Homo sapiens: one gene and its partners. The protein of the gene in region 1 interacts with the protein of each later gene in a biochemical or structural test. Each region holds a gene or a part of one and is shown in the gene's direction. Other genes may lie near its edges.

Evidence for each region.
Region 2: the proteins of SMAD3 (region 1) and EP300 form a complex in vitro, tested with the Homo sapiens proteins (5 studies listed by BioGRID).
Region 3: the proteins of SMAD3 (region 1) and SKI form a complex in vitro, tested with the Homo sapiens proteins (8 studies listed by BioGRID and IntAct).
Region 4: the proteins of SMAD3 (region 1) and TFE3 form a complex in vitro, tested with the Homo sapiens proteins (2 studies listed by BioGRID).

What each region holds. Positions count from the first base shown.
Region 1 is NC_000015.10:67,061,175-67,068,601, forward strand, and holds the start of SMAD3 (mothers against decapentaplegic homolog 3), read left to right. Parts: upstream 1-4,427; 5' UTR 4,428-4,980; coding exon 4,981-5,186; intron 5,187-7,427. UniProt on the Homo sapiens protein: Receptor-regulated SMAD (R-SMAD) that is an intracellular signal transducer and transcriptional modulator activated by TGF-beta (transforming growth factor) and activin type 1 receptor kinases.
Region 2 is NC_000022.11:41,172,569-41,179,665, forward strand, and holds part of EP300 (histone acetyltransferase p300), read left to right. Parts: coding exon 1-95; intron 96-1,054; coding exon 1,055-1,216; intron 1,217-3,678; coding exon 3,679-3,960; intron 3,961-4,204; coding exon 4,205-6,388; 3' UTR 6,389-7,097. UniProt on the Homo sapiens protein: Functions as a histone acetyltransferase and regulates transcription via chromatin remodeling. Acetylates all four core histones in nucleosomes. Histone acetylation gives an epigenetic tag for transcriptional activation.
Region 3 is NC_000001.11:2,224,291-2,231,345, forward strand, and holds the start of SKI (ski oncogene), read left to right. Parts: upstream 1-4,028; 5' UTR 4,029-4,476; coding exon 4,477-5,445; intron 5,446-7,055. UniProt on the Homo sapiens protein: May play a role in terminal differentiation of skeletal muscle cells but not in the determination of cells to the myogenic lineage. Functions as a repressor of TGF-beta signaling.
Region 4 is NC_000023.11:49,040,313-49,048,019, reverse strand, and holds the start of TFE3 (transcription factor E3), read left to right. Parts: upstream 1-4,662; 5' UTR 4,663-4,793; coding exon 4,794-4,909; intron 4,910-7,451; coding exon 7,452-7,565; intron 7,566-7,707. UniProt on the Homo sapiens protein: Transcription factor that acts as a master regulator of lysosomal biogenesis and immune response.

The sequences.
Region 1 (7,427 bases):
AGGCTGCTACGGACATGGGTGTGGAAATACTCGTAGTCCCTGCTTTCAATTCTTTTGGGTATATCCCCAGAAACAGAATGACCGGATCATATGGTAATTCTGCTCAGTTTTTTGAGGAACTGCCATACATACACCACAGCATTTTCCTCAGAGGCAGCACTACTTCACATCTTCACCAGCAATGTGCAAGGATTCTAATTTCTTCACATCCTTTCCAACATGTTATTTTCTGTTTTTTAAAAGCGAATAGCTGGCCAGGCGCGGTGGCTCACGCCTGTAATCCCAGCACTTTGGGATGCCAAGGTGGGAGGAATCAGCTGAGATCAGGAGTTTGAGACCAGCCTGACCAACATGGATAAATCCCGTCTCTACTAAAAATACAAAATTAGCCAGGCGTGGGTGGCACATGCCTGTAATCTCAGCTACTCAGGCGGTTGAGGCAGGAGAATTGCTTGAACCCGGGAGGCGGAGGTTGCAGTGAGCCAAGATGGCACCATTGCACTCCAGCCTGGGCAACAAGAGCGAAACTCCATCTCAAAAACAAAGAAAAAAAGATAATAGCCATCCTAATGGATGTGAAGTGGTTCAATGTATATCTTTTTATTTGTATAACTTCTTTCAAAATGTATATAATTATTTTGTGTATATGTAATTTGTTTTACATAGTAGCATTATGCTATTCCTTTCCCTCTGTGTCTTACTATTTTCTGTTGGAACTGTGTTTAAAATCTATACATTTGTTTTATGTACATGGAATTCATTGCTTCTCACTTTTGCATAGCACTTTATAGTATGCATGAATCACATCCATGTATATTGAGAACCTACTATGTGCTTGTACCAAGCTTTCTATATGATTTAATCTGATTCCATACAGCAATCCTAAGAAGGTGTTGTAATTATCACATTTTATGGATGAGAAAACTGACACACACAGAGTTAAGGAACGTGCCCAGAGTCACACAGCCGGAAGTGGAAGAGGTAGAAGTTTAACCCAGGTCATTCTGGTGCCACAGAAGAGCTCACACGTGTAAGGTGTTACAAAGAGCTATAGGTAGAGATCTGACTGTAGACAGAGGCTCTCTCTTAGGTGAGGGCACTCTGATAAAAGTTCTAGTCCTGATTTGGCTACTTATCTTCACAGTGCAAATCACCTTCCCTTACAGACATCACTTTCTGTCTGTGTAAGATGAAGATGATTTTAATGCTTTTTCTAGATTCACTACTTGTTGATTAAATACCCTTAAGCTAATGGGAAAATAATCAGAATTGAAGTCAGGTGTTTGTTTCTTTCGTGTATTTGGAGTGGCTGGCCTACCTGGGAGCCACTCCAAATACACGAAAACCCTCTGATGTGTCTATTCACGAGGTGAACTGTTCATAGGATGGACTATTCCCAGGGAAACAGTTGCTGTCTCCACTTCCATCCCACCTCTCCTGAACTTTGCACTTACCATGGTGAAAAATTAACTGGGCTAATGTTTCCCTCCCAAGGACAACCTCTGCAAAAGCAGGTATGGCTGGGCCCCAAAAGACCAGGTGCCAGAACAGAGTTGTACCCATCCAGAGCAGCCCACCCATTCACTGCCCAAAGTCAAGATCAAGAGAACATGCAGGGTCTTCTCAGCACTGGAAGAATCAGTTCCTCAGCCCTCCTCAGAGCTTTCTGAAACTGGACTTAGTCCCCCAGTGGAGGGACTTCTCTTGGAGAAACAGGCCTGAGGAGAAAGAACTAGCCCAGAAATGGCACTTATTAGACTTGTAGGTGGGTCCAGCACTATTTTTCTGCATGCACAGCTGTTCTTGTCACACGGATGCCAGCAGGGAAGCATGGTTCTGCCACACTAACTAGCTGGCTGCCTAGTTATTTCCTCCCCTCAGGAAAATGAGAGGGCTGAATGAGGGCCCCTTCCCATACCATGATTTTACAGGGTGAAGTACCTGTCAGGTCCTTCTACTACATGTAATCCTCAAATCTCTCTGACGCTCTTCCTCTACAGTGCAAATCACTCTCCTTCAGCAGACATTGCTCTCTCTGTAACATAAAGGACTTGAACTACAGGAGGACAGTTACAATGCTCTTTCTGGATCCACCACTCTGCACAGTGAGAACCGCTTGCTCCATTCTTACAGCGGAGAGAACGGACGCTGCCCAAGGGGAAGAAGAGAAAGAGCCGGGATTGGAAGCCAGGCCAGTCACTGATGGATCCTGAGCCCCTCTTACTTTCTTTGGCTACCTCTCAATGGTTGGACTTGTTCAGGTTAAGATTAACACTTTACTGGACGATGATGACTGCAAGGCCCCTGCCCATCTTTGCCCACTCAGTCACATCATCCTCATCCCCACCCTTTGATGCTTCTCTAGGCTGTGAACGCCTTGAAAACCTTAGTCTTTTATTTTGGAAGTTCAGGAACTGAATAGGAGGGCTGCAACTCAGAGCTGCTCCGTCAATGTGTGTTAAACTTATTTGACCTCCCTCCACCACTTTTCATGGCATTAGCAATGCAAACCTTTTCACATGAGCTTCCCACAGCCACCCTAGGAGATCGCGAGGGAAGCTACCTCTAGCCCCATTTTACAGGTGAGCAAATAATCCTTGCAGTGTTACAACAGTGTGCCCGTGTAGAGAACTGTTTTGCAAAGAGCTCGATCAATGATGTCATCTTTGCCTTCCGTGACCCAGGCAGCTGGGTGCAGTCTCAAGATCGGAGACTGAGGCTTCAACAAAGTATTGGGTTCAAATTCCAGCTCTGCCACTTGGAACCCTGAGTAAGTAATGTAATCTCTCTGTGCCTCCGTAAACGTGAGGCACAGGAACATCTACCTCACCAACCACTGTTAAGACTGAATCAAAGGGCAGCAGGCGGACTACCCGGAATGAAGAAAGCAATCAATAAATGTGGATTGTGTCATCCTTGTCTCTCTTGACGGACGGGAAGAGGAGAGTGAAACCTAAGACCACAGCGGCAGCGCGTTAACAGGAGGACCAGCAAGGAACGGAAGCCAGGTTGTCAAGCCTCAGTTGGCTTTCACGTATTCTCCTTTTCAGGCGGGTATTTAGGAAGAGAGGAGGGTGAGGAGCACAGCGCACTTCTGCAGCAGCAGCTGCGGATTGGCTTGTGGGAGGCGGTTCTCCGGAGCAAGGCAAGGGCCCCTGCCGCTTCTGGGCTGACTGTGGATTCCGCCACACCTCACAGGGCTTTGTAACTCCCCACCCACTTGAGGGTTCCAGATAACTTTTTTTTTTTAACAAAGCAGGGGTGGGGGTGGGAGATTCCTGCTGTTAAAAACAAACAAAGGGCTTAGACACCGGCTAGTCGGCTGCGGGAGGCAGCAAGAGAAAGGCCGAGGGGCCTGGAGTAGCTCCTGAAAACCGCCGAGGGCCCTGCGGGCAGACGCCCCTGAATTCTTTTGGTGGGGAGAAAAGCCGCGGAGCTCCCCAATGTGCCAATTGGTTTGTTGTTGTTTTGCTTTTTTTGAATACACAAACTCTCCGAAAACTCCTGTCTTGCCCCACTTTTTTGTGAGTTCATTGCTTTGGAAACAAAACTCTCTTCCATTTATTGGCAATTATCAAATTTCCGATCCTTCTCTATCAGGAGATCCAGCAACAAACACCCTGTTATGTAAATTTCTTTCAAAGATAAATTCGAAAGCCCCTCCATTCATTCCTTCAAGAACTCAACAGATGTCCTTGAGGCTCATTTTCTGCCGGGCACTCGGTTCACAAGGCTCAAGAGACCCCTGGCTCCAGCCATTGTCCAGGTTGTCACTGGTGTCCCCAGCTCTCCACTTCTGAGGACCCACTTCTCACCCCCTCCTCCTCCGCACACGTTCCCGAGGCTCTCGGCCGGTGTGATCTCACCGACTAGAGAATAAAAACAGCCCAGGGGCGCCGGCGCCGGCCAAGGGCCTTGACGGGGATCAGCAAGCGCGAGGCCAAGTGCGGGCCCCAACTTCCTGGGCCCGGGCCTTCCGCGCGCCCCCTCTCGGGCTCGGGTCCTCTCCAGGGTGCACTCGCGTCCGGACGACGCTTACTTGCTGCGAGTCCAACCCTCTCCGGCCCGCAACTCCAACCGAGCCGCCCGAGTGTGGACTCCGAGAGCGGACGCCACGGGCCGCGCTCAGCCCTCCCGCCCGAGGCCCCTCTCGCCGTGTTTCCCAGGACTTCCTCCCCGCGCCCGCCCGACTTCAGGTCGGGGCCGCGCAGGGTCCCGCGCGCTCCAGCCAGGACTGCCGCCGCCCGGGTCGCCCACGTGGGCGTGCTGGGCGCGGGGTGGTGGCCGGCCGGGCGCCCTCCCCGGAGCAGGGGGCGGGCAGGGCGCCCGCGGGAGGAGGTGGCGGGGCGCGGGGGAGGAGGCGGGGAGCCCCGGCGGCGAGGGGGCGGTGACAGCACTTGGAAAGGAGGCTGCACGCGGATTTGCATGAAACACAGACTGGGAGCGGGCGGGAGCGGGAGCGCGGCGCACGCCCCGGGCCGGCCCAGCCAGCGAGCGAGCGAGCGGCGAGCCGGGAGGAGGAGGGTGGCGGGGCGGTGAGGCCGCAGAGGCGGAGGGATCTGCGCATCAAAGCTAGCGAGGCGAGCGAAGTTTGGCCGGGGGTTGGACTTTCCTTCCCGGAGGCGGCACCCAAACAGCTACCCCGTGCGGAAACCCAAACTTCTGCTGCCACTTGGAGTCTCGCGGCCGCCGCCTCCGCCCCGCGTTCGGGGCCTTCCCGACCCTGCACTGCTGCCGTCCGCCCGCCCGGCCGCTCTTCTCTTCGCCGTGGGAGCCGCTCCGGGCGCAGGGCCGCGCGCCGAGCCCCGCAGGCTGCAGCGCCGCGGCCCGGCCCGGCGCCCCGGCAACTTCGCCGAGAGTTGAGGCGAAGTTTGGGCGACCGCGGCAGGCCCCGGCCGAGCTCCCCTCTGCGCCCCCGGCGTCCCGTCGAGCCCAGCCCCGCCGGGGGCGCTCCTCGCCGCCCGCGCGCCCTCCCCAGCCATGTCGTCCATCCTGCCTTTCACTCCCCCGATCGTGAAGCGCCTGCTGGGCTGGAAGAAGGGCGAGCAGAACGGGCAGGAGGAGAAATGGTGCGAGAAGGCGGTCAAGAGCCTGGTCAAGAAACTCAAGAAGACGGGGCAGCTGGACGAGCTGGAGAAGGCCATCACCACGCAGAACGTCAACACCAAGTGCATCACCATCCCCAGGTGGGGGCCCGCCCGGGGGGGACCCGGGGTCACGCCGGCCCAGCCCCCTGGCACTGCGGGGCCGACCCAGTGGGGCTGGAGATGGGAAGAGGGAGAGAGAGGGAGGGAGTGAGACTGTGTGGGTGCGTGTGTGTGAGAGTGGGAGAGCGCGGGCAGGAAGGGGGTGGGGGGACCCCAAACAAAACCATCTCTGATTTGCAAAGATCAGAGCCCGAGGCTTCCACGCGGCACTCTGGCTTCCACACCTCACATTCCCTTTCCACCTCCGGGAGGGGAGAGCGGGTTGCTGCGGGACTCGGCCGCCCCCACTCCGGGGAGCTGGGGCTGGAAGTTGAGGCCCGCTTTGTTCGGCTCCGCGGGCCGGAGCCCCTCCTCCGCCGCCGCCTCCCGCCCCCGCGGCCCGCGCTCGTGGAGGTGGTGGTGTCTTTGCGTTTCTTTTCTTCAGTCGGGTCTCCCCACTTTCCTCTACAGGAATGCGGTCCGTACAGCTGGGGCTGTGGGTGAGGAGCGGGAGCCTAGTGATTGACAGATTCCTTCTTCGTTCTTTCTTTGCCTTCGGGATTAGCATTTTTATCGAGTATTTTTAGACTCGGTTGTGCCAGTCTCCCGCCCCCTGAGCATGCACGCACTTTGGTTGCAGTGCAATGCTCTGACTTCCAAATGGGAGAGACAAGTGGCGGAAAATAGGGTCTTCTCCCACCTCCCACCCCCCCATCCCGACTCTTTTGCCCTTCTTTTGGTCCAAGAGATTTTGAAACCGTGCAGAACGAGGGAGAGGGGCAGGCTGCAGCCGGGCAGATAACAAAACACACCCCAAAGTGGGCCTCGCATCGGCCCTCGCATTCCTGTAGAGCCTTCCTTCCCAAAGCGCGCTGCCATCTGTCTGGATCTCCTTTATCCTTCCCGTTGCGCGCTAGCTAGGTCGGGCGGGAGCCCACAGATGGCTGATAGAAGGGGTCAGTGACTTCACTCCCCCAGGGCCTTCCTTAGCTTAGATGTGCCTGGCTGGGAACTGGGGGTGCGGGTACCTTGGCTTCCTGTCTCTACCTCTCAGCCTCCTTTGATGCTGAACCAAGGGAGAGAGCGTGTGTGTTGGGGGCTGGCTCTTTTGGGGGTCCCAGGCTGCCGAGGAATGAGTAGAAAGCACCAGGGACTGTCAGCCGCAAAGGGATTGTCATCCCTGCTCCTGGGCCAGGGTGGACTCCATCCTTGGCCACCTGCTTGGGGCAGTTGTACAGGGGCTGCCAGGCGAGTCAGGCAGGCACAAAGCAACATCTGTCCACGGGAACCGAGGGCAGGCCTCCCCTGGAAATAAATGCCACATATGGTGGGAGTGCGGACTTAAATTTTTTTTAACTGGGTGGATCCAGTCAATAAAGGGGGAGGGAAGGCGGTGTGCTGTCTGGGGAAGTCTCTGGGCGTGTGATCGGGAGCCAGAATTGACTTCAGAGGAGGTGGTGTGATGTGATGGTCAGAGAGACCTGGGATTTGGTTCCAGCTCTGGTTGTTAATTCTTCTGTATTCCTTCCGTGGGGGTGGCTAGGGTAGAGTGGGTGAGTATGCTACTTCTCTTTCTGGGGAGGGGTCTGCCAAACCTACCTTCTCCTTATCTGCCTGGGTGCATTGAAGACAAGTGCTTTATGTATTGAAACAGAAGAAAAAAAGTGGTATCAATTGTAAAACAGGCAGCTGTGAAAAGTGTTTCACAGTTTACAAAGCACTTTCACATGGTTTTCTGAGGTCCTCAAAAAAAGACAGAAAGCAAGCAAGCAACCAGCCATGGAAAGTAGATAAGGTTGTTAGGCTTAAGATTATCACATTTTTAAAGCAGAGGAAACCTTAAAAGAGAGAGGTGAAAAGGCTTGAGTCATAGACATGGGGTTCTGCCTGAATGTGCTCTTTCTGCTGCCCCATGCTGCTTTATACTTTGAAGATCCTGAATACATTCTTTGCTGAATGCTAAAGCTGTGTTAGCTTGGGGAGGGCCCTGTGGATCTTTGTATGTGCGGTTGCTTCTTTAATCTTTGGGCTGGTGATAGCTTGGCAGAGAGGCCTTGCTTTCCCTTGCCTTGGTAGGAGTTTGTCCTCTGTGGGGCCATACCTTTGGCCTGCCTTTTCCTCTTCCAAAGTCCTGCTGAGACTTTGGAAGCCTAAGACGTGTGAACGCTTTGGATGATTCTGAGAGTTCAAGCCAACCTGCCCTGTGGCCTTCTCGTGACTTTGTTAGGACTGAGGCATCTT
Region 2 (7,097 bases), on another chromosome or scaffold:
TCTGGCCCAATGTTCTGGAAGAAAGCATTAAGGAACTGGAACAGGAGGAAGAAGAGAGAAAACGAGAGGAAAACACCAGCAATGAAAGCACAGATGTAAGGGCATTGAGTTTCCTTTGAAACTTCTATCATGATTCTAATATTTAATCCAGAAGTGCACTTAAACTTTCAATTGGGTTTTAAAGCTTTCAGGTGTAAAAGAGCTCTTTAAGTTGGACAAGAAATATTGGCTTAGAGAGGTTATTAGGGTTCTGTTTCAGTGGTATTAAACTTTTAAAGCATCAGAGCCCCTTTTAAAATGGCATCTCAGACTTTGAGTAATGTGAAATGATAAAAGAAACTGAAGGAAATCCTGAAAAACTGATAGAAGATTACTTATCTGAAGGACTAGGTTATGAATATTATAGGCCTTGTGGGTCACATATCTCTGGCATATTTTCTGTCTTTTAAAAACACACTCTTTTTAAATGTAAAAAACCATTCTTAGCTATACAAAATAGGCCTGAGCCAGAATTTAAGTTACTAAGCCTGGCTTAGTAACCTCACCAGTTATTTCCCCATAGCATATCTCGAATTACCTCCATTGAATTTAACTTAACAAAAGGCACCCTTAAATAGTCTGTTAACAAACTCTTACAGCCTTGTCATTTAGTATTTGTAGGCTCATAACATTTTAGAATATGAGTGGAAGGAAATAAAACCAAGGTCTTCTGGCTCCCCACTTTGATACACTCTTCACTACCCCAAAGTGCCACCCCTTCCTTGTTCCCTAGCCCCAATCTGGGATACATTCAATCAATCTACAGGGTCTGCACATTCTGTGGCCTCTTCTAGGCAAAAAGCTAAAGGGCTGCCATTGCCTTAAAGATCACTGGGAGAAAATTAGGTCAAATAACAACTTTAAGGAGAAAGAATAAGTGAAGAGAACAGCTAGTAAAATAAGTTACAGGCATAAGATTATGATATCTAGTTTCAAAGAAGGGAGATATTCTGTGCTATTCCCAAATTACTTAACAAAAACCTTATTTTCTTGTCTCCTTTGTGCTACTCTGCAGGTGACCAAGGGAGACAGCAAAAATGCTAAAAAGAAGAATAATAAGAAAACCAGCAAAAATAAGAGCAGCCTGAGTAGGGGCAACAAGAAGAAACCCGGGATGCCCAATGTATCTAACGACCTCTCACAGAAACTATATGCCACCATGGAGAAGCATAAAGAGGTAAGATGCAGCCACCCAGAGTTGGGGAAAAACGGCAAGATTTCTGGCCAGGCATGGTGGCTCACACCTGTAATCCCAGCACTTTGGGAGGCCAAGGCGGGTGGATCACCTGAGGTCAGGAGTTCAAGACCAGCCTGACCAACACGGTGAAACCTTGCTCTACTAAAAATACAAAATTAGCTGGGCATGGTGGCACATGCCTGTAATCCCAGCTACTCAGGAGGCTGAGGCAGGAGAATTGCTTGAACCTGAGAAGCGGAGATTGCAGTGAGCCGAGGTCACTCCATTGCACTCCAGCCTGGGCAACAAGAGCGAAACTCCACCTCAGAAAAAGAAATAAGAAATGAATAAAAACACTGACTGTTCGCTGGGCGTGGTGGCTCATGCCTGTAATCCCAGCACTTTGGAGGTTGAGGCAGGCGGATCACTTGAGGTCAGGAGTTGGAGACCAGCCTGGCCAACATGGCGAACCGAAACCCCGTCTCTACTAAAAATACAAAAATTAGCCTGGCGTGGTGGCACACACCTGTAATCCTTGGGATGCTGGGGTGGGAGGATCACTTGAACCTGGGAGGCAGAGGTTGCAGTGCACTTACAGCCTGGGTGACAGAACGAGACTCTGTTTCAAAAAATAAAAAGATTTAACCTTTCTGAAAGTGAATTAGTAAATAGAATTGGAGAAAAGTTAAACTTCCACATATGGACTTACAACCCCCTTCTCAAAACTTTTTGAGTTATTTCATCATTTACATTGTTTAGTTGTTCTTGCAGTCATTTGGGAAAATAACTGGGTAAGGTTTTTTTTTTCTCTCTTTAATATCATATAATTGATAACGAAAGCCAGGAGAATTGAAGAGTAATTCCTCTCAGGGTTTGTCCAATGGTAGTAATCTCGATTGTTCAGTCAGACTCCTCATTTTACTATCTCGGTTCTCAGACATATAATCAAGTTCTTATAGGAAGTGGTAATTAAGTTGAGAGGGAAATGAAGGCTTGATTTCAGGTTGTAATTCCGTACCTAAAAATTGGTTAAACAGTCTCTTTGGGAGAGAAATAGTTAACAAAATCTTTTTTAGAGAGGAATTTGTTATAATGATGTTATCATGGTGAACACCTATATACATAGGTGTTCAAAGTATCTTTTCCCCCACTGCTCCCCCCATCACCACCCCTTTTTTGTTAGCCTAGAATAATGGGCTACGATGTAATAATGGTAATAACCATTATCTCAGCCATGCTAGTGAAATGGAAGGATTCCTGAGTTCTAATACGTTAGGTAATGATTATTAACAATTAATAGTTACTAGCTATTTCAAGCAGTAAGTAATGCCACAGAATCCTAGGCAGTTGGGAAAAGCCCTTAGAATATATTGTAATAGGTTTGACTTAAATTGTGGACACATTCCATGGCTGTTTAAATTTAGGTTGTAAATCCAAGTATTGGCCTGGTTGTAGGGTGACAGAAGCAGCGAACATTGCTGGCCAGAGACTGTGAGTGTGGCTGCCAGTGTGCACAGATGTTGAATAATCTGTTATCAGTACAGCAGTTTCTCACAAGTTCCTAATTTCTTAAGGGGATGTTTTACATTTTATTACTTTAATAGGTGTTTATAGTTATATACTAATTAATGTCAAATACATATGTAATACCAGCTTTTTATACCTTTTACACTAATGGTTATGAGAATTGATGGTTGTTACAAGTTTTTTCAAACTTCAATGAACAAGAATTTTATTGCTTTGTCAACAAAGACTAAGATTTTTTATCCATTCCATTCCCTTCCAAACCTGTAGGAAAAGTTACACAGGAAAGTTGCATAGGGGACCTTCATGAGTCCAGGCCAGTTGTTTTTCATACTGTCTCCATATTTGGATTTGTCTGGTTTGTTGTAATTAGATTGAGGTTAAACCATGGATTGCATCTTAAAGTAGACTGCCTTGAGGCAAAATGTCCACTGTGCATGGTGCTATACCTCACCCAGACCATTGTTACTCTGAAGGAGTTACTGAATGAAGGAGAAAAAAATCACAGGATGTGCATTTCAGTTCTATTTATAGTCAGTCTCAAGAGACCAAAGAGGTAAAGCAGGAAAAGGAACAGGAGGCGTATGGTGGTGAAACTAACTCAGCATTCGCCAGTCTCATTGGTGCTCAGCCTGCTGTACCTGCTCACACCTGTAATCCCAGCACTCTGGGAGGCTGAGGCAGGCAGATCACTTGAGCTTAGGAGTTTGAGACCAGCCTGGGCAACATGGCGAAGCCTCGTCTCTACAAAAAATGCAGAAATTAGCCAGGTGTGGTGGTGTGGGCCTGTGGTCTCAGCTATTCAGGAGGCCATGGTGGGATAATTGCTTGAGCCCAGGAGGCAGAGGTTGTAGTGAGCCAAGATCACGCCACTGCATTCCAGCCTGGATGACAGAGCGAGGCCCTGTCTCAAAAAAAAGAGACTGTCTGTTTTTCAGGTCTTCTTTGTGATCCGCCTCATTGCTGGCCCTGCTGCCAACTCCCTGCCTCCCATTGTTGATCCTGATCCTCTCATCCCCTGCGATCTGATGGATGGTCGGGATGCGTTTCTCACGCTGGCAAGGGACAAGCACCTGGAGTTCTCTTCACTCCGAAGAGCCCAGTGGTCCACCATGTGCATGCTGGTGGAGCTGCACACGCAGAGCCAGGACCGCTTTGTCTACACCTGCAATGAATGCAAGCACCATGTGGAGACACGCTGGCACTGTACTGTCTGTGAGGTAGGCACCGGGTTGTGGGAAGGAGGAGGTGAGCTCCGCAGGGTTGTTCTGAGGGGCCATGCAGCCACGTATTTTATAGAGGCCTGTGGGATGCTAGGGGCTTGGCCTCGTGTTTGAGGGGCAGAGCTGAAGAGGCTAGTTTTTGTTCTACGAAAGGGGCTTTTCTAGCCCAAACAATATCTAAAATACTTTTGAATGACTTAAATCTTGGAGAGTTTACGTGCACCTCCTGTTTTTTCCCTAGGATTATGACTTGTGTATCACCTGCTATAACACTAAAAACCATGACCACAAAATGGAGAAACTAGGCCTTGGCTTAGATGATGAGAGCAACAACCAGCAGGCTGCAGCCACCCAGAGCCCAGGCGATTCTCGCCGCCTGAGTATCCAGCGCTGCATCCAGTCTCTGGTCCATGCTTGCCAGTGTCGGAATGCCAATTGCTCACTGCCATCCTGCCAGAAGATGAAGCGGGTTGTGCAGCATACCAAGGGTTGCAAACGGAAAACCAATGGCGGGTGCCCCATCTGCAAGCAGCTCATTGCCCTCTGCTGCTACCATGCCAAGCACTGCCAGGAGAACAAATGCCCGGTGCCGTTCTGCCTAAACATCAAGCAGAAGCTCCGGCAGCAACAGCTGCAGCACCGACTACAGCAGGCCCAAATGCTTCGCAGGAGGATGGCCAGCATGCAGCGGACTGGTGTGGTTGGGCAGCAACAGGGCCTCCCTTCCCCCACTCCTGCCACTCCAACGACACCAACTGGCCAACAGCCAACCACCCCGCAGACGCCCCAGCCCACTTCTCAGCCTCAGCCTACCCCTCCCAATAGCATGCCACCCTACTTGCCCAGGACTCAAGCTGCTGGCCCTGTGTCCCAGGGTAAGGCAGCAGGCCAGGTGACCCCTCCAACCCCTCCTCAGACTGCTCAGCCACCCCTTCCAGGGCCCCCACCTGCAGCAGTGGAAATGGCAATGCAGATTCAGAGAGCAGCGGAGACGCAGCGCCAGATGGCCCACGTGCAAATTTTTCAAAGGCCAATCCAACACCAGATGCCCCCGATGACTCCCATGGCCCCCATGGGTATGAACCCACCTCCCATGACCAGAGGTCCCAGTGGGCATTTGGAGCCAGGGATGGGACCGACAGGGATGCAGCAACAGCCACCCTGGAGCCAAGGAGGATTGCCTCAGCCCCAGCAACTACAGTCTGGGATGCCAAGGCCAGCCATGATGTCAGTGGCCCAGCATGGTCAACCTTTGAACATGGCTCCACAACCAGGATTGGGCCAGGTAGGTATCAGCCCACTCAAACCAGGCACTGTGTCTCAACAAGCCTTACAAAACCTTTTGCGGACTCTCAGGTCTCCCAGCTCTCCCCTGCAGCAGCAACAGGTGCTTAGTATCCTTCACGCCAACCCCCAGCTGTTGGCTGCATTCATCAAGCAGCGGGCTGCCAAGTATGCCAACTCTAATCCACAACCCATCCCTGGGCAGCCTGGCATGCCCCAGGGGCAGCCAGGGCTACAGCCACCTACCATGCCAGGTCAGCAGGGGGTCCACTCCAATCCAGCCATGCAGAACATGAATCCAATGCAGGCGGGCGTTCAGAGGGCTGGCCTGCCCCAGCAGCAACCACAGCAGCAACTCCAGCCACCCATGGGAGGGATGAGCCCCCAGGCTCAGCAGATGAACATGAACCACAACACCATGCCTTCACAATTCCGAGACATCTTGAGACGACAGCAAATGATGCAACAGCAGCAGCAACAGGGAGCAGGGCCAGGAATAGGCCCTGGAATGGCCAACCATAACCAGTTCCAGCAACCCCAAGGAGTTGGCTACCCACCACAGCAGCAGCAGCGGATGCAGCATCACATGCAACAGATGCAACAAGGAAATATGGGACAGATAGGCCAGCTTCCCCAGGCCTTGGGAGCAGAGGCAGGTGCCAGTCTACAGGCCTATCAGCAGCGACTCCTTCAGCAACAGATGGGGTCCCCTGTTCAGCCCAACCCCATGAGCCCCCAGCAGCATATGCTCCCAAATCAGGCCCAGTCCCCACACCTACAAGGCCAGCAGATCCCTAATTCTCTCTCCAATCAAGTGCGCTCTCCCCAGCCTGTCCCTTCTCCACGGCCACAGTCCCAGCCCCCCCACTCCAGTCCTTCCCCAAGGATGCAGCCTCAGCCTTCTCCACACCACGTTTCCCCACAGACAAGTTCCCCACATCCTGGACTGGTAGCTGCCCAGGCCAACCCCATGGAACAAGGGCATTTTGCCAGCCCGGACCAGAATTCAATGCTTTCTCAGCTTGCTAGCAATCCAGGCATGGCAAACCTCCATGGTGCAAGCGCCACGGACCTGGGACTCAGCACCGATAACTCAGACTTGAATTCAAACCTCTCACAGAGTACACTAGACATACACTAGAGACACCTTGTAGTATTTTGGGAGCAAAAAAATTATTTTCTCTTAACAAGACTTTTTGTACTGAAAACAATTTTTTTGAATCTTTCGTAGCCTAAAAGACAATTTTCCTTGGAACACATAAGAACTGTGCAGTAGCCGTTTGTGGTTTAAAGCAAACATGCAAGATGAACCTGAGGGATGATAGAATACAAAGAATATATTTTTGTTATGGCTGGTTACCACCAGCCTTTCTTCCCCTTTGTGTGTGTGGTTCAAGTGTGCACTGGGAGGAGGCTGAGGCCTGTGAAGCCAAACAATATGCTCCTGCCTTGCACCTCCAATAGGTTTTATTATTTTTTTTAAATTAATGAACATATGTAATATTAATAGTTATTATTTACTGGTGCAGATGGTTGACATTTTTCCCTATTTTCCTCACTTTATGGAAGAGTTAAAACATTTCTAAACCAGAGGACAAAAGGGGTTAATGTTACTTTAAAATTACATTCTATATATATATAAATATATATAAATATATATTAAAATACCAGTTTTTTTTCTCTGGGTGCAAAGATGTTCATTCTTTTAAAAAATGTTTAAAAAAAAAAAAAAACTGCCTTTCTTCCCCTCAAGTCAACTTTTGTGCTCCAGAAAATTTTCTATTCTGTAAGTCTGAGCGTAAAACTTCAAGTATTAAAATAATTTGTACATGTAGAGAGAAAAATGACTT
Region 3 (7,055 bases), on another chromosome or scaffold:
ATGCATTTCCCCACCAAGGTTTCCAAGTTCCCCCAAAGCTTGGGGTACCCCTTGCTTTGCCAGTGTCTTCCTCTTTCTGGTCCTGGGGCGCCATCCAACTCATCTCCACACTGCTGGCTCCTTAAGGTGGGGGTCTCAACTCCAAGGCCAGCCTCCCAGGAGGCCCTCCCTGCCTACAGCCAGCCCCAGCCACTCCGCGCCTTTTGGGGATCTGAAAGATCTCGCTCCCGTACTAGCAGGTTTGTTGATTGACTGTTGTCTCTCACACCAGAATGGAACCACACGGGGTACAACCTGGTCTCCTTACCCTGATCCCAGTGTCTACAGTGGTAGGAGCTCATCGAACAAGGGGACAAACTCATGACTAGCTGACCAAGCCTGTCACCGTGGTAGGGGCCAGGGAGAAAGCTGGGAGGTCCCTGCCTTTGCCCGCATGCCAGGGCTTCTCTGGGCAGGCACCACGTCCATCCCACCCTACTCCGCGCTGTGGCTGTGCCTGCAGCCTTAACCCGCGGCCTGCCAGTATGGTGGCCCGCGTGGGCGACTGGCCTGGGCAGCTGCTGGGCGGGGCTGGAGGGTGGAAGGCCAGCAGGCGGGAGACACCCCCCACCCTCTTCCCTGCCAAGCTCAGGAAGAAAAGTGGACCCTGGTGGCTCCCTCTAGGCGTGGCTGCTCTGACCCTTGGTGGGGTGGGTGCCTTCCTCTGGAAGCTCTGACATATTGGGGGAAGGAAGTCTCAAGAGTCCACAAAGGTGGAGGTAGCTTCAGAGACCAACTGGAGGCCCTCACCTGTCCCCGCACCTTCACTCCATGGCACACCTATGGCTACTTCCCAGGGGTCCGCACTCTGGACAAAGTGTTGGTCCCTGGCTAGGACCCTGCAAAGCCAGAGGCACAGAAGGAAGCAGAGGCTCTGGGTGGGCACTGCCCATGCTAGGGGCCCTGCACAGAGCCCCTGGTCCACCAGAGGAGCCAGAGGAATTCTCTGCTTGATTGGAGACACTTCCCAGCAGGCCTGGCTGCAACCACCTTCTCTGAGTTACAATTTGACTGAGTTGTATGGAATTCAAATCCAGATGGAAGGAAGTGACAACGTCAAGTGCAACACTAGCTGTGTTTTGTCCAAAACGTGGGCCAACGAAACTATCTCCAGGAAAACAAATAAGTCCCTTTTCTATTTTTTTTTTTTTTTTTTTTGAGACAGAGTCTCACTCCATCGCCCAGGCTGGAGTGCAGTGGTGCAGTCTCAGCTCACTGCAATCTCCACCTGCCAGGTTCAAGCGATTCTCCTGCCTCAGCCTCCCGAGTAGCTGGGATTACAGGCATGTGCCACCATGCCCGGCTGATTTTTGTATATTTAGTAGAGAGGGGGTTTCACCATGTTGGCCAGGCTGGTCTCCAACTCCTGATCTCAAATAATCCACCCGCCTCAGCCTCTCAAAGTGGTGGGATTACAGGCGTGAGCCCCTGCGTCTGGACTGAATATCCTTTTTTTTTTTTTAGACGGAGTCTCGCTCTGTCGCCCAGGCTGGGGTGCAGTGGCGCAGTCTCGGCTCACTGCAAGCTCCGCCTCCCAGGTTCACGCCATTCTCCTGCCTCAGCCTCCTGAGTAGCTGGGACTACAGGCGCCCACCACCACGCCCAGCTAATTTTTTGCATTTTTAGTGGAGACGGGGTTTCACCGTTAGCCAGGATGGTCTCGATCTCCTGACCTCGTGATCCGCCTGCCTCGGCCTCCCAAAGTGCTGGGATTACAGGCATGAGCCACTGAGGCTGACCCTTTTTTTTTTTTTGAGACAGGGTCTGTCTCAAAAAAAGGGTGTGTCCCTATCACCCAGGATGGAGTGCAGAGGCTCAAGCACGGCTCCCCGCAGCCCCAACCTTCTGGGCTCAAGCAATCTTCCCACCTCAGCTTCTCAAGTAGCTGAGACCACAGGTGCAGGCCACCATGCCCGGCTAATTAAAAAAAAAAATTATTTTTTGTAGACAGGGTCTCACTATATCGCCCAGGCTAGTCTTGAACTCCTGGGCTCAAGCGATGCGCCTGCCTTATCTTCCCAAAGTGCTGGGATTACAGGCGTGAGCCACCTTGCCGGGTTAAATATCACTTTTAAGGAAATGATCTTCTTACCCAGCTTTCTGGTGTGTGAACACACAGAGAAAGCCTGGCCTCCAATTGTGGGGGCCAACGGAGTGAATGGGAAGAGTCGGGGGACAGTGTGGAGTGTGAGGACAAGGAGACAACCCCCAAGGCAGCGGAGAGAGGGAGTATGGAGCCGCCCTGGGGTCACCTACAGGTAGGTCCTGGCTGCCTCTCTAGACACCTGCCCTGCCGCAGGTCCGGCCAAGACCTGCACAGGGACTCCGGGCCGGCTCCCCCAGGATAGGAACTGCGCCCAGGAGTGCTGGTTTGAGGCAGGTTCCAGCCTCCACTGGGGAAGTGAGGGGCAGGAGGTCCCAGCTGAAGGTCACTCAGGTTGCAGCGGCGTGGCCCTCTCGCCTCCGCCCAGCACCCAGGCCAGCTTGGGCACCCCCGGCCCGTGGGGCATGTCCCTCCGCCTCAGGCGAGCACAGACCGAGCCCTGCCCCTCCCCAAACACACCATTGCGTCCCTGCGCCCGCAGGCCTCGCTGGAAGCTGCCTCCCCTGGAGACCACCCGGCCGACTGTCCAACTTCGGGGCCCCGGGCTTCCCGCTCCCCGCCCTGCCAAGGCTTGAGTCTCTCCCACTGCGTGGCCAGGCGTGGAGGGCCGGCCGATCCGACCCCGAAAGACGTCTCAGCGCTCCACGGCCCCGGGGCGGAGGTCAGGGGTCTCGCCGGCCCGAACGCCGGGCCCCGCGGGGCCGAAGTCCTGATAAGCCACCTGGCAGGAGTGGCTGGCAGACCGGCTGCGTCTGGGGCACCGGGCGCCGCCCCTCCCAGGCCCGAAGCCCCCGGCCCGCGCAGCAGGGACACTCCGCCAGGGGCCGGCGGGCGGGGCGGGGCCGGCGCGGCCGGGAGCCGCGGACACTCGGCCACCGAGCCACCGGCCACGGCGCAGCGGGGGCCGCCGGGCTGCGCCGCCAGGGTCACGCGACGCGGTGCCCGTCTCGGCGCAGGGTCCCTGGGCGTGGCCGCTGTCCCCCTCGTGTGTGGGACCCCAGGTCACCGTGTGGCGTCCCGGTAGTGTGTGGGACCCCAGAGGCGTCCGGGGCCTCCCCGCTGTGTGGTGTCCCACCCTGGGAGAACCCCGGGTGCGTGGCGTGGCCCCCCGGCCGCCCCCAGCTGGTTTGCGGTCGTGGCGGGGGCCTGTGGGTTTCTGGGCCCCGACGGCGGCGAGACGGGCGCCTTCCCAGCGGCGCAGGAAGCGGCCTCGGCCGGAAGGGGGGCCCCGGGCGCCACCGCCGCCTCCGCCTCCGCCCGCGCCCAGCGGCCCTCGGCGGGCGGGGCCGAGCGGGGCCGAGCGGAGTCGAGCATGGCCGAGCGTAGCCGAGTCCCGGCCGAGCGGAGCCGAGTCATGGCAGGGCGGGTCCGAGCGTGGCCGAGTCCCGGGCGAGCGGAGCCGAGCGCGGCCGAGTCCGGGCGGGGAGCGCGCGTTCCTGGAAGAGCCCGGCTGGGGAGCGGGTCACATTCTTGGCCAGCGCTAGGGCTGAGGCGGACGCACGGCAACAAACAGCGCGGGGGGCGGGGCCGGCGCGGGGCGGAGCGGGCGGCGCGGGGCGGGGCGGCGCGGCGGCGGCGTGAGCTCAGCGCCGGGCGCTCAGTCCGAGCCGGAGCGAGCCGCCGGGAGGATGTGCGCCGAGCGCCCCGAGCCCCGCGCCGCCGCCGCGCTCTGAGGGCCGCGGGCGAGAGGCGCCTCCGCCGCCCCGGAAGCCGGGCGGGCGGGCCGCGGAGCCGGCGGGCGGGCGGGCCGGGGGCCGGCGGCGGGCGCGACGCGGCCGGCCAGCGCCGCCGGGACGAGCCGGGCGGGCGCCTCGCGGTGGGAGGAGCGGGGCGGCGGCGGCGCGCCGCGCGAGGACGGCCCGGCGGGCCCCGCGCCCGCGCCCCCGCTCCTCCCGGGCCCCTCGGCCTCGGCCGCCGCGGCGATTCGCGCCTCGCGGCGCCGGCACCTGCCCGCGCGCCCCCCGCGAGCCCCGGGCCCGCGAGCGTTGGCGTTGGCGTTGGCGGCGCGCGCCGGGGCATGCCCCGCGCCTAGAGCCCGGGGGGCGCGCGGGGGACGCGCGGGGGGCCCGGGCGGCGGCGGGCGCGGCGCGGGGCGCGTGGATGTGGCGCCGGGCCCGGGCGGCGGCGGGCTCCAGCGGCGGGACCCCTTCGCCCCGCCCGCCTTCCCCTTCGCGCCCCCGGGCGAGGCCGCGGCCGTGATCGGCCGTGAGCCGGCGGCGGGGGGCGGCCGGGGTCGGGGCCGCGGGCGCCGCCGGGGCGCGCGGGGCGGCGGCGGGGGCCGGGGGGGCCCGGGCGCGCGGGAGCGGGAGCGGCCGGGGGAGCCGGAGCGCACCATGGAGGCGGCGGCAGGCGGCCGCGGCTGTTTCCAGCCGCACCCGGGGCTGCAGAAGACGCTGGAGCAGTTCCACCTGAGCTCCATGAGCTCGCTGGGCGGCCCGGCCGCTTTCTCGGCGCGCTGGGCGCAGGAGGCCTACAAGAAGGAGAGCGCCAAGGAGGCGGGCGCGGCCGCGGTGCCGGCGCCGGTGCCCGCAGCCACCGAGCCGCCGCCCGTGCTGCACCTGCCCGCCATCCAGCCGCCGCCGCCCGTGCTGCCCGGGCCCTTCTTCATGCCGTCCGACCGCTCCACCGAGCGCTGCGAGACCGTACTGGAAGGCGAGACCATCTCGTGCTTCGTGGTGGGAGGCGAGAAGCGCCTGTGTCTGCCGCAGATTCTCAACTCGGTGCTGCGCGACTTCTCGCTGCAGCAGATCAACGCGGTGTGCGACGAGCTCCACATCTACTGCTCGCGCTGCACGGCCGACCAGCTGGAGATCCTCAAAGTCATGGGCATCCTGCCCTTCTCGGCGCCCTCGTGCGGGCTCATCACCAAGACGGACGCCGAGCGCCTGTGCAACGCGCTGCTCTACGGCGGCGCCTACCCGCCGCCCTGCAAGAAGGAGCTGGCCGCCAGCCTGGCGCTGGGCCTGGAGCTCAGCGAGCGCAGCGTCCGCGTGTACCACGAGTGCTTCGGCAAGTGTAAGGGGCTGCTGGTGCCCGAGCTCTACAGCAGCCCGAGCGCCGCCTGCATCCAGTGCCTGGACTGCCGCCTCATGTACCCGCCGCACAAGTTCGTGGTGCACTCGCACAAGGCCCTGGAGAACCGGACCTGCCACTGGGGCTTCGACTCGGCCAACTGGCGGGCCTACATCCTGCTGAGCCAGGATTACACGGGCAAGGAGGAGCAGGCGCGCCTCGGCCGCTGCCTGGACGACGTGAAGGAGAAATTCGACTATGGCAACAAGTACAAGCGGCGGGTGCCCCGGGTGAGTGGCCCCAGGCCTGGGAGCTGGGGAGGATGCGCTTGGGGTGGGGGCCCCTTCTGGACTACAGGCTCTGGTCTCCGAAGGCTGGGACCTGTGCTTCTGCCGTGCCCCATGTCTCCAGTCTTCGCTTTGTTTTAGGGAAATTCAGAGTGTTCCGACTGGCAGGGCCAGAGAGTTTGGTAGGAAGGCCCTCCTGCCCGTTCCCCAGGACGAGCCTGGAGTGCGGGCTGTGGCGGTGGGGTGGGGGGCCAGGCCTGGTGTGTGGGGAAGGCCCGCAGGCCCACAGGCATTGCCCAGATAGGAAGGCACAGGCCTCATGCTCCCGAGAAAGCGGCCTGCCCCAGGTCAGGGAAGTTAGGTCCAGCTGGGCCACGGCCCGGATGCCTCAGGCCCAGGTCTTTCTTGGGGTTGGGGTGAAGGTGGCTGTCCTCGCCCCGAAGGCACCCAGCCTCGAAGACGGAGGGCTGCCTGCCTTTGGGCCCCAGGAGACAGAGCTTGGGTGAGGCGAGGCCTGGTTTTGTTACTGGCTCCCGCTCCCTGTTTGGTGCCTTGAAGTTTTGGGACACAGACACAAAATGAAGCCAGGTGTCCAGGCTTCAGTGGCAGGGGCCCGAGACTTGGCGGCTCCAGCACTGTGCTGGTTGGTCTCCCTGGGCCTGCCAGGGACCAAATCCCAGAGTCCGCCGTGTGGGGTGAGGGCCATTTGGCACCCGGCTGAGGGGCCTGGTCAGCAGGCTCCTGGGCCCGCGTGCTGGAGTTACTGGCGGCCTGCGATTTGCTTTGGACTCACCCATTTCCTTCTCTCCCTCTGAAACGCAGAGGGGTGCGCCGGAGAGGGAGGCTGCTGGCCTGGCTTTGTTGTTTGCCAGTTGGAGGATCTATGGGATCCGGCATGGGCAGCTCCCAGGCCACGAGGTGCCGAAATTACTCAGTGGGGTCCTCAGGAACTTTCCGTTGCGTACCTCCCCAAGTATTTGTAACTTTTCTTTTAAATATCCAGGCTTATTAAATTGCACACACAGAATGCTGCATTGGCTCAGCTATTCTTGGGAGGCCTAATTAATTCAGCTATTGCATCAAACTTTTTTTTTCTAAATCTGTGAATAGATGCTCCAGCCCGGTTTTCTCTGGGCGCCCCTCCAGCAGAGTGTCAGATCGTGGGGAGGAGGGGCTGTGGATGGAAGCGAGGGACTGTCGCCTCTGCTCGGAGGGGGCTGCGGAGGGTGCATGTGTGTGTGCATGTGTGTGTTTGTGTGTGCGCGCTTCTGACCCTGCCAGGCCAGGGCTCAGGTGGCAGCCGCCTGCAGACCTGTGGGCTGGGGAAGGATGCTCGTGGCAGAGCTGCAGACAGACGTAGCAGGCTGGGGCCCTTCGTGTCACACGGGGAGTTGGTTGGGGTGGGCCCGATGGCGCTCCCTGTGGGCTGGGGCCTTTCTTTTTGGGGTGGCCGCACCCTCGTCAGTGCCTGTGGCTGGAGGAAGCCACATGTCGGGGGGGATTGTGGGCTCGTGCAGGCTGCGTAGTGGGTCACCTGTGGCCAAGGCCTGAGCTGCTGGGACACGCTCACGTCACTGTCTTCAGAGCTGATGGCAGAGGATCTCGGTTGAGCA
Region 4 (7,707 bases), on another chromosome or scaffold:
TGCCTGTAGTCCCAGCTACTCGAGAGTCTGAGGGAGGAGAATGGCTTGAACCCAGGAGCCGGAGGTTGCAGTGAACCAAGATCACACCACTGCACTCCAGCCTGGGTGACAGAGTGAGACTTTGTCTAAAAAAAATTAATTAATTAAAAAAAAATTCCAGGGATTAGGACATAGGACATAAATATATTGGCAGGGGTGGAGGGGATTATTCAGCCTACCACAACATCTTATGACAGTTAACATCTGTTCCTTAAACCACCTTACAGAAGGCCGAACTCTATCTCTAAAAACCCATCTTCCTATATTCCCTCCAACTGTACCCCAAACCATCCTCCACCCATTAACCGTATTCCCAATCCACCCTCCCAATAGCTCCCACCTGCATTCTTAAACTGTCTTATTGAAGCCCCATTCCTCCCAAAGACCTTCAAATGATCCTTCAATTGCCTGCAAACTGTCCTGTTGTAGAACCCAAACTCACCCCCAAGCCACCTTCAATCACCACTCATATCTATCCCTAAATACCCCCAACTTCACCATCCAGCTGCCCTCCCACTTCGCTCCACATGTCCCCTTCACAGCACCTTGAAGTTGTCTTGCAGTGAAACCCCAGATAAGGTTGCAGTGAGCCGAGATCGCACCACTGCACTCCAGCCTGGATGACAGAGCGAAACCCTGTCTCCAAAAAAAAAGAAAGAAAGAAAGAAAGGAACTCCAACTATATGGCAGGGGTGCAAGTATTGAGAAAGTTGAGAATGAGATATTGATAGAAACTAGGGCCGGGCATGTGGCTCATGCCTTTAATCCCAGCGCTATGGGAGGCCGAGGCGGGCGGATCACTTGAGGTCAGGAGTTTGAAACCAGCCTGGCCAACATGGGGAAACCCTGTCTCTACTAAAAATACAAAAAAAATTAGCTGGCCGCGGTGGCGGGCACCTGTAATCCCAGTTACTTGGGAGGCTGAGGCAGGAGAATCGCCTGAACCCAGGAGGCAGAGGCTGCAGTGAGCCGAGATAGTGCCACTGCACCTCAGCCTGGGTGACAGAGCGAGATTCCATCTCAAAAAAAAAAAAAAAAGAGAGAGAGAAAAAGAAAAAAGAAGTCCGGGTGCAGTGGCTCACGCCTGTAATCCCAGCACTTTGGGAGGCCGAGGCAGGCGGATCACGAGGTCAGGAGATCGAGACCATCCTGGCTAACATGGTGAAACCCCGTCTCTACTAAACATACAAAAAAATTAGCCGGGCATAGTAGCGGGTGCCTGTAGTCCCAGCTACTGGGGAGGCTGAGGCAGGAGAATGGCGTGAACCCGGGAGGCGGAGCTTGCAGTGAGCCGAGATCGTGCCACTGCACTCCAGCCTGGGCAAGAGCGAGACTCTGTCTCAAAAAAAAAAGAAAAAGAAAAGAGAGAGAGAAACCCAGAAAGATGCAGGGTAGGCATATCATGCAGGGTGTCATGGGATATCACTTGTCATGGAGACATTTGAGATGCGTGTGTGAAGCTGGTGTTTGTAGGATTGGGATGTGTGACAAGATAATTACTCTGTGGCTCTACTGCTATAAATATTTGTTGCCAGTCTGTTGTAAGTCTTTTAACTTTGTAGCATCTTTCATCAGACAGTATGTAGTTTTATTTATTGATTAATTGATACAGAGTCTCATTCTGTCGTCCAGGCTGGAGGGTAGTGGTACAAACACGGCTCACTGCAACTTCAAACTTTCCAGGCTCAAGCGATCCTCCTGCCTCAGCCTCCCAAGTAGTTGGGACCACAGGTGTGCACCACCATACCTGGCTAATTTTTCTTTTCTTTTCTTTTCTTTTTTTTTCTTTTTTTCTGAGACAGAGTCTCACTTTGTCCCCAGGCTGGAGTGCAGTGGTGCAATCTCGGCTCACTGCAACCTCCGCCTCCTGGGTTCAAGAGATTCTCCTGCCTCGGCCTCCCAAGTAGCTGGGACTACAGGCCAGGCGCGTGCCACCATGCCCAGCTAATTTTTGTATTTTTAGTAGAGACGGGGTTTCACCATGTTGGCCAGGATGGCCTCAATCCCTTGACTTTGTGATCCTCCCGCCTCAGCCTCCCAAAGTGCTGGGATTACAGGCGTGAGCCACCATGCCCGGCCTAATTTTTTAAAAGTTTTTTTGTACAGACGGGGTCTCCCTATGTTTCCCAGACTAGTCTCAAACTCCCGGGCTCAAGCAATTCTCCCACCTTGGCCTCCCAAAGTGTTGGGATTACAGGTGGGAACCACCCCGCCAGACCCTCCTCTTTCTTCTTTTGTAAAATTAGCCATTCTTACATGTTTGTTTTTGTTTTTTTTGAGACGGAGTCTAGCTCTGTCTCCCAAGCTGGAGTGCAGTGGCACGATCTTGGCTCACTGCAACCTCCACCTCCCGGGTTCAAGCGATTCTTGTGCCTCAGCCTCCCTAGTAGCTGGGATTACAGGCGCACGCCACCATGCCTGGCTAATTTTTTTGTATTTTTAGTAGAGACAGGGTTTTGCCACGTTGGCCAGGCTGGTCTTGAACTTCTGACCTCAAGTGATCCACCTGCCTCGGCCTCTCAAAGTGCTGGGATTACAGGCGTGAGCCACCGCACTGGGCCATTGTTTTTGTTTTTGAGACAGAGTCTCACTCTGTCGCCCCAGGCTGGAGTGCAGTGGCGTGATCTCGGCTCACTGCAACCTCCGCCTGTCGGGTTCAAGCTATTCTCCTGCCTCAGCCTCCCGAGTAGCTGGGACTACAGGCCAGGCGCAGACCACCACGCCCGGCTAATTTTTGTATTTTTGTAGAGACGAGGTTTTGCCATGTTGGCCAGGCTGGTATCGAACTTCTGGCCTCAAGCGACCCACCAACCTTGGCCTCCCAAACTGCTGGATTACAGGTGTGAGCCACCGTGCCCGGCCCATTCTTACATGTTTAAGGCATCATAGGAATTTTAACATTGGATCTACAAGTTCCGTTTTAGAGTTTTGATTGGTACAATTGGTAATGTATTCTTTTTTCTTTTTTTTTTTTTTTTGAGACTGAGTCTCACTCTGTCACCCAGGCTGCAGTGCAGTGACACTATCTTGGTTCACTGCAACCTCTGCTTCCCGGTTCAAGGGATTCTCCTGCCTCAGCCTCCCGAGTAGTTGGGATTACAGGCGCCCGCCACCACGCCCGGCTAATTTTTTGTATTTTTAGTAGAGACGGGGTTTCACCGTGTTGGCCAGGCTGGTCTCAAACTCCTGACCTCAGGTGATCCACCCGCCTCGGCCTCCCAAAGTGCTGGGATTACAGGCATGAGCCACCGCGCCCGGCCAGAAGTCATCTTTATTATGTAGAGGTTTCCCCCTTGTACGAGATGGTTGTGTGTGAGTATGGATGAGTTTACGAAAGCAACTGACAGACCTGTGAAATAATGATGCCAATACAGGAAGGTCCAAGGTAAATGAAAGCCCGGTGAAATTCCTGGAGGCGCAACTCAGGGTGGGGTCTTGGGATGTCAGGAAAGAGGAAGGGAAGGCTGTAGGTCTGGGTGTTTTGTGAGCTATTTGCACCTGAGGATATATGAGTGAGACCCTCCGCCTTGTGCGAGCCGGCTTGCATGCGTCTGGCATACAGAAGCGCTCAGTGAATGTTGAATAAGTGAACAAATGAGTGAATCAACTAATTTTGGGAAGCTTCTTGTATGCCAAACAACCTGCTAGCACTTTTCATACATTATCTTTAATCCTCAGAACAACCCTGCCAGACAGGTATTTTGACCCCCATTTAACAGGCCAGGAAAGCTGAGGCTGGGAGAGGGGAGGTCCCCTTCCCTATTCAAACCTGGATCTTTGTGATTCCAGAAGTCGTCATTCACCGAAGGGACCAGATTCATTCACCCGTCAAGAATTTATTAAGCACATATTGCGCAGCGCAATGAACATAGTACAACCGCTCTCGATGGCATGGAACAGGCGGAATACTCCCGGAAGACCAGCTGGGCGGCTGGACTGCGGACAGCGAAAGGGGGGGGTTTCTGGCCCGCACCTTCAGGGAATGTAGCTGCCTCTGCCTCATAGTTATGGCTTTGGCTGAGAGAGCACAGCCAGATCGAGGTTGGAGCGCGGTCTAGGGCTCAGATATTACAAATATTGGCCGAAAGAGGGCGCGGTTCCGCAGCTAAAAGCTTGGCCAGGAGACCCTCCGTGCGCCGACTGGCCATCGATGCGCAGGCGCAGAGGACCCAAGGAGCGGCTTAATATTACCTTGCAGAGGGATAATTTGAGAAGAGAGGGCGTGGCTCCGAAAGCGACGCAAACATAGAGGCGTGGTTCAACCAAATCAACCCTCGCCTATTTGTCGCTGCCCCTGAGGGCGTGGTCTGGGTGCTGCTTCTCGGAATGAGGGCGGGCCGAATCGCGTTTTTCCTCCGCGTCGGAGGCGTCGCTTAGGGTGGGCCCTCGAATCGCCGTTCAGCGATTGGCCGCCTCGCTAATGGGTCGTGGCCAGACGGGCCATCCATCCCCAGTGCGGTCACTTCCTGTGGAGTTTCCCCATCCCTGGGAGGAGGGAGGAGGGGGAAGAAGACGAGGGGGAGGAGGGCGGTCGTCCGGGGTTAGGTTGAGGGGGGGCGTCGGTCCGTTCTGGGCGGGGGATGACTCACAGCCCATCCCATCTCCCCGACGCCGCCCGCCCGCGCAGTGCTAGCTCCATGGCTTAGCGGAGGAGGCGGCGGTGGCGAGCTGGGGGGAGGGGGGACTCTTATTTTGTTAGGGGGACCGGGCCGAGGCCCGACCGGCCTGGCAGGGCTCGCCCGGGGCCGGGCGTCATGTCTCATGCGGCCGAACCAGCTCGGGATGGCGTAGAGGCCAGCGCGGAGGGCCCTCGAGCCGTGTTCGTGCTGTTGGAGGAGCGCAGGCCGGCCGACTCGGCTCAGCTGCTCAGGTGCGGGGCCGCCTGGGGCTGGGAGTGCCGACTGGGGCTCCCAGGGGCCTGATCTCGGGGGCAGTGGGGGCCCCGGACTGGGATTGGAGGCCCTCGGCCTAGCCTTGGAGGACGTCGGGGCGCCCGTCTTGGGGGGGCACCTAAGGAATCCGGCAGTGGCCTGCTTGGATTGTGGCTTTATTAAAGGAGTCGTGGGAGTGCATTAAGCGGGGTCTGGGTCAGGTTTGGGGAGCCCTTGACTGCGTCTAGAGGGGCCTATTCTGGAGTATCCAGAAACTGGTCTGAGATAGCTGAACTTGGTAGACAGGGTCTCTGATTAGAGGCTGAATTCGGGGATTTTCAGTCGGACATGAGGGGAATGAATTTGAGGGGACACTGTCAGGTGAGGCACTGGTTTTAAGGGAATCCTAGAATCTTTTTTCCCTCAGTGTGGGAGAAGGGGTCCTGAGGGACAGAAGTGCTGTCTTGGGAGCTTGGTGCCTCTCAGTGACTGGTTGCTGTGTTTGGGGATAACATGAATCTGGAGGGATTTGGAGGTATCTCAGATATGCTGCCTGGGACCAGCCTTGTGAGTGCGTGTGAATGAACAAGAGAAGCAACATTCAGCAAGACTTGACCAGAATAATCCTTTCCCCTCTGCCCGCCTACCCAGCTGGGGCAGATCCCAAGGATAGTGGAAAAGCCCTCTTCCCACACCTGTTAAGGGCCTGAATGGAAGATAGACAGCCAGGCAGAGGGCGATGATGTTACCTCTTAGCTCAGAGGCCTCAGACCTTGTTTGGGAACCCAGAGGAGGCTCTTGTTCATGCTGCTACTCGCTCTAGCCTCTCAGCCCTTCCCACTCCCTAGCCCCACACCCCTTTTCTTTTTATCTTCTTTTCGATCTCCGAGCTCCTGGGGGTAATCTTGAATCTGTCCATAGAGCTGGAACGAGTACAGATTGCACCATCCCTGCCTGGGTGGATCCCCTCTGGCCTCTTCTCATCCTTACTTTCATCAATGGGCTTTGGAGCCCCAGCCCTCCCTGCTCACCCCAGTGCCCATCTCTTCCAACTTCTGTGCAATGGGTGTGTGAGCCCTGGGTGGGGGGGGGTCTTTGCCTCCTTTGTGCCTGGGATTGTGCTGAGCTCAGTGGCTCGCCCGAGCTTCCTCTTCCCAACTTCCTGGGTGGTTTTAGGGCTCCATCTGAGGGTGAGGAGAGGAAGGAAGACAGATCCTTGGGGAGGGGAGAGGATTCTTGTCAAGTGAAGTCACCAGCAATCTCTCAGCATTCTAAATGTTTAGCTAAATTGAAGGATGCATATTCATCCACGTGTGTGTTAACTGTCCCTTGCTCTCTGGGGCTGAGCAGAGCCTTTCTGTATATCGATTCACCATCTTCTAATTCCTCTGTAACAACCTAGATCATCGCAGTAGTGGACATAGTTAAAGGGATGGGTGTATATGGCTTCTTATTTTGTGCGCCAGTGGGTGTTAGTGTTGGGGGTGTGTGTGTGTTTTGATCTATCCAAAAAAACAGGAGAAGGCTGGGCAGGCTCCTCCGGTAAGAAAAGAATGCTTGTATAAAGTGGATCAACCACCCAAATTCTCCCTCTTGTAAATCCAGTCTGTTGGAGCGAGGGGAGCCTTTGATATTTCTATTTTATATTTAGGCATGTGTTGGCATCCCATGAACTCTGGCTGGGGCTGGGAGAAACTCATTTGTGAAATGGTAGATCTTTACGTCAAGTGAATTATTTCCAGTTCTCTTTGTGATGCATTCAGTTTGTGTTACAAGGGACTGTTATGCTGAGGGATGCCCCTACTTGCTCTGTGTGTGTGTGTGTGTACACACATATACCTGGGCTCACATTCAGCTGTAAAGAAAATAGCAGGGGGTTGGCCGGGCGCAGTGGCTCACACCTGTAATCCCAGCACTTTGGGAGGCCGAGGCAAGCGGATCTTGAGGTCAGGAGATCGAGACCATCCTGGCTAATACGGTGAAACCCCGTCTCTACTAAAAATACAAAAATTAGCCGGACGTGGTGGCGTGTGCCTGTAATCCCAGCTACTCGGGAGGCTGAGGCGTGAGAATCACTTGAACCCAGGAGGCAGAGCTTGCAGTGAGCTGAGATCGCACCACTGTACTCCAGCCTGGTGACAGAGCGATACTCTGTCTCAAAAAAAAAAAAAAAGTAGGGGGTATGGGGGCTGGGAGAACTCTGAATAGGAAGTCAGGAATCCTTCTATAAAGTGAATTGTTATTCCTAAATTCTGTTTTCCTCAAACCCAGGTTGTTACAGTGTGGGGGTTGGGATGCAGGCGTTCTTATTATTCTGACTCCTAAGGGACTATGAGTAACACAGTGGGGAAGGGAAAGGGGGATGGGGGAAGGAGGTGGGAATTCATGGTGGTGTGGTACCCAGCAAGGTGGCCAAATATGAGGGGCTTGTACCCTCCTCTTCGTTCTCCCCCCCTCTCTCTCTCTTTCTCTGTCTCAGGGGAGGGCTGGGGAATAAGGTCCTTCATTCAATCACTGACCACCACTCCACCTCCCCCTCAGCCTGAACTCTTTGCTTCCGGAATCCGGGATTGTTGCTGACATAGAATTAGAAAACGTCCTTGATCCTGACAGCTTCTACGAGCTCAAAAGCCAACCCTTACCCCTTCGCTCAAGGTATGTATGACTTGTCTATCTGATTCCCCTCCCAATTCCTCAGCCCTCCTCTCCCCTCTTGATGGGCAGAGGCCCTCAGTACCAGCCCAACCCATTCTTTCACCAGCCTGCGTTTTCTAGGTGGTAAAATTAGGGACCAGAA